2 separate regions of the Homo sapiens genome follow, and region 1 is linked to region 2. Evidence: fine-mapped expression QTL. Tissue or cell type: whole blood. Region 2 holds a variant in brackets; the other region holds the start of a gene. All regions are shown on one strand. Distances are from middle to middle.

Region 1 (2,694 bases), 36 kb after region 2:
TGCAAACCCCCGTCGGGCCTTCCTAGGCTTCCCTGACATCCAAGAGTGCCACCCGGAGCACATGGTTCCCAGGAATTCTGCGCGCTCGGCCCCACTCCAGGCGGGGCCACTGAGGGAGGGGGTGTTTAGTTTCTGGAAGTACCTGCTCCCCGGGGCCCGCACAGCGCACACAGCCTTTCGGGGCGGCCCCAGACCCGGTGAGGTCCGCGCCCTGTGCCGCCGGGAGGGCAGGCTGGGGGCGTGCACAGCGAGGGCCCCCTTTGCCTCCGCCCCGGCCCCGGCCCCGGCCTCGGCCTCCACCCGGGCCCCGCCAGCCCCCGGCCGCCGGGCACGCACTTGTTGAGCGCCCCGCCCGGCTCGGGGGGCTCGGGGCCGCGCGGCGCGGGCGGCGGCTCGGCGGGGATGCTGTTGAAGCGGTCCTCCAGGCGGACGCGCACGGCCGGCTTGGCCCGGGCCTCGGGCGCGCCGTCGGGTCCAGCCGCAGCCGCAGCCGCGCCCGCGCCCTCCTTGGCGGCGCCGTCGGCCCGGGCCCTCGCTCCGTCCCCGCCGCCCGACGTCTTCTCCGCCGCGCCCGCCTCGCTTAGCAGCATCATGCGCAGCTCCTGGAAGTCGATGTGGCCCAGGCAGGGCGCGTCGGCCGCCAGCGCGGACGGGCACAGCACGGGGTACACGGGCGCCGCGCCCCCCTGACCGCCCGCCGCGAAGCCGCCCGCGCCTGCGCCCGGGCCCGCCGCCGCCAGCAGCGCCGAGTTGAGGCGCGTCTCGAGCTCGCCGTCAGCCGCCGCCTCCATGTGCGAGCAGAGGATGTGCTGCAGCTGCGTGTACTCCACCTCCGTCATCTCCACCAGGCTCAGGTCGGTGGTCGTGAAGCTCAGCCCCGGCTCGCCCAGCGCCGCGTCCCCGCCGCCCGCGCCCTCGACGGCCGCCTCGCCGCCTGCCGCGCCTGCCTCCGGCGGCGGCTCCCGCGGTCCGGGGCCCGACATGGCGGCGCGGCGCGGCCCAACGGCGGCGAGGGCGACGCGGGCGGCGGGCGGCGGGAGGCGGGAGGCGGGAGGCGGGAGGCGACCCCCGGCCCGAGCACTACTCTGCGCCGGCCACAGCCGGCGCGCCGTTGGGGGAGGGAAAACCGCTGAGTGCCGCGCACAGCGCCTGCGCCGCCCCGCCCCGCAACGGCAACCCCACCCCTGCGCCAGCCCCGCCCCCTCCGTTACCCGCCGCCGCCGGCCCCGCCCCCGCCCAACCGCCCGCACGCCCGGCCCCGCCCCACGTCGGCGGATGCTTGCGCGGAGGGCCCGCCCCCACGGCCCAGCCACGCCCCCACAGCTAGGCCACGCCCCCAGCTCAGGCCACGCCCGGTTCCCAGCCACGCCCCTGCTGCCCGGCCACTCCCCGCTGAGGCCCGGCGAGGGCGGCTGCGCTGGAATCAGCGTGATACCTACGCGGTGACACCCTGGGGAGAAGCCACGTCCGTGCGTGCACGTGCGCCCCATTACAGCGGCAGGAATGAAGACGTTGTCAAAACAGCTCCCTGGACCCACAGTCCACAGTGCCCAGGCCATCCGCTTCATCCGCGTAAAATGCGCAGCGCATGGCCGGGTTCTGTGGCTCATGCCTGTAATCCCAGTACTTTGGGAGGCCGAGGCAGGTGGATCAGGAGGTCAGGAGATCGAGACCAGCCTGGCCAACATGGTGAAACCCCGTCTCTACTAAAAATACAAAAATTAGCTGGACGTGGTAGTGCGTGCCTGTAATCCCAGCTACTCGGGAGGCTGAGGCAGGAGAATCGCTTGAACCCGGGAGGCGGAGGTTGCAGTGAGTCGAGATCTTGCCACTGCACTCCAGCCTGGGCAACAGAGCCAGACTTCATCTCAAAAAAAAAAAAAAAATGCACAGCGCGACGGTGGTGGTACATTCCCAGCGCTGGGCCCGCCTCCACCGCTGCATTCACCACCGGTCTCCTGTAGCAGTCAGCACACTGCCCCTCCCCCGCCTGCAGCCACTAATCTTCTGTGTCCAGGAGTTTGCCTAGGCTGGGCCTTCCCTGTTAAGGGAACTATGCAATATGTGGTCTTTAAGAGACTTATTTTTGCAATCTTGAAATAATTCCTGTACTTAACCTCTCACCCACATTCCCATCTCACTCAGTGGTTGTCTGTTCTCTGTCTAGGCATTAGGACACTTAAAGGCCTGTGACTTGCACATCGTCTTCTAAGCCGGGTCTGAATCTTTCGCTCATTTCATCACAGTTTAGACACAGACCAATATATTACAATGATTCAACGATGGGCTATGAAAGCTCAGCCATGCAAATCTAAACTCACACATGTATACATGAAAATAATATATCAGTTTTGGGCAAAACATCAGGTTTCAGAAAACACTACCAAGGAGGAAAGCAAGGACTTAAAACTCTCAAGGACATGGCAACAGAAGTCGTCTAACGTAAAACAGAGAGGGAAGGCTAAGAGAGTGAGCAGAGCATCAGTGAGCTGTGGGGCCGCTTCAAGCAGTGTGATTTGAAGTCCCCTGGGGGTGGAAGGATGGGGAGAAAGACATTTTAAGAAGTAATGATTGCCAGGTGAGGTGGCTCACGCCTGTAATCCCAGCACTTTGGGAGGCCGAGGCGGGCAGATCCCTTGAGGTCAGGAGTTCGAGATCAGCTTGGCCAACATGATGAAATCTCGTGTCTACTAA
Region 2 (2,612 bases):
GCCTCACTTCAGTGTTGCCAGGGAGGGGGTGTCGGGGGGTCTGGGTGGGGCAGTGACCCCACATTTGCTTGCAGGGACCCACTGGCTACAAAGGCGAGCAGGGGGAAGTCGGCAAGGACGGCGAGAAGGTGAAGCTGCCGCACAGCAGCTGGGGAGGAGCTGGGGACTGGAGGCTGGGCTCCGGCGGGAGGGAGGGGCTGGGCTCCGGCGGGAGGGAGGGGCTGGGCTCCGGCGGGAGGGAGGGGCTGGGCTCCGGCGGGAGGGAGGGGCTGGGCTCCGGCGGGAGGGAGGGGCTGGGCTCCGGCGGTGGGGAGGGACCGTTTCATGGGTGCACCTGCACTGGCACCTTCTGTGCCTGTCTTCCAGACAGGGCCTGGCTGGTCAGAGCTGGGTGATTTAGGCAGGGTCCCTGGACAGACCCCGTCCTGCCTGGCCTCGCTGTGGAAGCTCCCTGGTTTGTGTCTGTGGCCGGGGCGAGGGGCATCTGTGAGGATGGCTGGCTTTAGCCTGTAGCCTCCCCTCACCTGTGGTCGCTGTCCGTGGAGGGTGTCTGTCCATGGTCACCTGCAGGCCGGGGGACCAGGTCTGGGATGCCCTTTAGCGTGGCTGGAGTGATCAGATGAGGAGACCCCAGGTGCACATCAGAGGGGTCCCTGCTTGGCCACGAGGAGGGGCCTGGACAGGGCTGAAGGGCCTTGTGGGAACAGTGACCACGGACCCCGGCCCGGCAGGGCGAGGCCACCGAGACTCGCGGGACTGCTCTGGAACTGTGGGCAAGTGTCCCCTTCACAGAGCCTCCAAGGCCCAGCTGTGAAGGGGGCAACACCCCCAGCTGCTTGGGCTTGAGTAGGGTGACTGGAGGCACCGAAAGGTGCAAGGAGAGCCAGACTGGGCCGCTGACCACCCTATCCCCTCTGTTTCAGGGTGACCCTGGCCCCCCTGGGCCCGCCGGCCTCCCGGGCAGCGTGGGGCTGCAGGTGAGGCTAGGAAGGGGTAAGGATGGTGGGATGGGAACTCAGCCCACAGAGTGATCAAGCCCTGCACATATCTACCCCCGAGGGGGCCAGCTCCGGCTGGGGGGTGTTTGGCCAACACCCAGGCACAGGAGCGCGACCTGGCTGGGGGTCCCACCTCTGCCAAGGCTGCTGACCTCAAGGCTGGTGCCCCCTCCCTCTGGGGGACCTGAGCTGAGGCTGAGGGCTCATGGAAGACACCAGGGCTCCCAGGGGTACCCCGAGGGCCTTGGCCCTGGGTGCTCCCCGGGGTGGAGGTGCAGCCCCAGCCTCTGCATCTGTGCCTCTCTCTCGCAGGGCCCCCGGGGATTACGAGGACTGCCAGGGCCACTCGGGCCCCCTGGGGACCGGGTAAGTCCTGCAGCCCCTAGTGGGGGCCGGCCAGGTGGCTGGGGGCCTGGTTGTCTGCACCTCCAGACTTCAGATGGGCCCCGTGAGTGACACTCTGAAGCAGCCGGCACCCTGGCT[C/T]TGGCCATCGCCACTGTGGCGCAGGCCTTGCTCTGGGCCCCTGTTCTCGCATGTGCCTGGGCGAGAGCTGACAGTCGGCGCTCACTGATGCCCGCACGCGGTCCCAGGCTGCTGTGAGGGCTATTCACGCGTGTGCCCGGGCGAGGGCTGATGAACTCTGCTCGCTGACACCCACACACACGGTCCCAGGCTGCTGTGAGGGCTGTTGTGGCTTAGGCCAGAGCAGGAGGGGAAGCAGGGATTTGGAGACTACTAGGTGGCATCTTGGGGGAACTTGCTGGGGAGCCCTAGAGGAAGGGCTGCTTGTGTCTGGGCCGCCCCTGAGGGAGCACTGGGGGGATGCCAGCCAGGCCTCAGACAAGAGGACCCCGGATCCCCTCTCTCCTCTGCAGGGTCCCATTGGGTTCCGAGGGCCGCCTGGGATCCCAGGAGCGCCTGGGAAAGCGGTACGTGTGTCAGTGGACGGTGGGCGCCATGCCTCGTGACCTCTCTCCCCTTTCCCTCTGCTCCTCTCAGACGCCCCCAGCCCCACTGGGGCCCCTCTTCTGTGGCTGAGCTGTTCCCTGGACACCCTGGGAGGGCTTGTGGCATGGGTACGGGGGTGCTTACCAATGGAATCCATTCTTTGTGAGACATTCGCCTCCTTTCTGGTTCTGGACGTGGAATGAGGGGTCACCATCGTCCCTCTGGCACCTCCAGCCATCTCTGACCACTCCTGGAGGGCCCAGGCCTGGAGGGGCCCCCATCCCACTCTCTGACCACTCCTGGAGGGCTGTCCCCCGCCCGGGCCTGGAGGGGCCCCCGTCCTACTCTCCGACCAACTCCATGGTGTTAACTCTGTCCCTGCCCCACCTCATCCTTTCCAGGGTGACCGAGGCGAGAGGGGCCCAGAAGGGTTCCGCGGCCCCAAGGGTGACCTCGTAAGTGAGAGGGAAGTTGGTTCCCTGGGTCCTTATGTGGAAGAACCCAATTTCCCTCCTGACTCGTGCTGGGGAGGGGGACACACTTGGGAGTGAGACTGCAAGGGGCTGCCTGGGTGGGCCTGGGGGTGCGTGGGGGTGAGCCTGACCCTGGAGGGCCCGAGCTCTCTCCCTGGCCCCAGCCGTTCTCCCAGAGCCACATGGGAGCTCT

What was found. PIP is the estimated chance that this variant, and not a neighbour inherited with it, causes the effect.
Region 1: it holds the start of TCFL5, and the variant in region 2 is fine-mapped to the expression of TCFL5 in whole blood (TOPMed, PIP above 0.99).

Annotation. Positions count from the first base shown.
Region 1 is chr20:62,860,688-62,863,381 of GRCh38, forward strand. It overlaps TCFL5 (transcription factor like 5), which reads right to left and starts at 1,135. Exons shown (of 6, transcript NM_006602.4): 1 at 337-1,135. The coding sequence starts at 983. LOC105372717 (a long non-coding RNA gene) reads left to right here and starts at 748. Exons shown (of 4, transcript XR_936989.4): 1 at 748-854. RefSeq lists silencers at 554-703, 1,204-1,393, 1,444-1,543 and an enhancer at 928-1,582.
Region 2 is chr20:62,824,894-62,827,505 of GRCh38, forward strand. COL9A3 (collagen type IX alpha 3 chain) reads left to right here. Exons shown (of 32, transcript NM_001853.4): 12 at 75-128; 13 at 924-977; 14 at 1,311-1,364; 15 at 1,874-1,927; 16 at 2,348-2,401. Among named protein-coding and RNA genes, the nearest start is that of COL9A3, 9.2 kb to the left of the region's middle. RefSeq lists a silencer at 306-365. The variant C/T (reference allele first, on the strand shown) is at 1,482.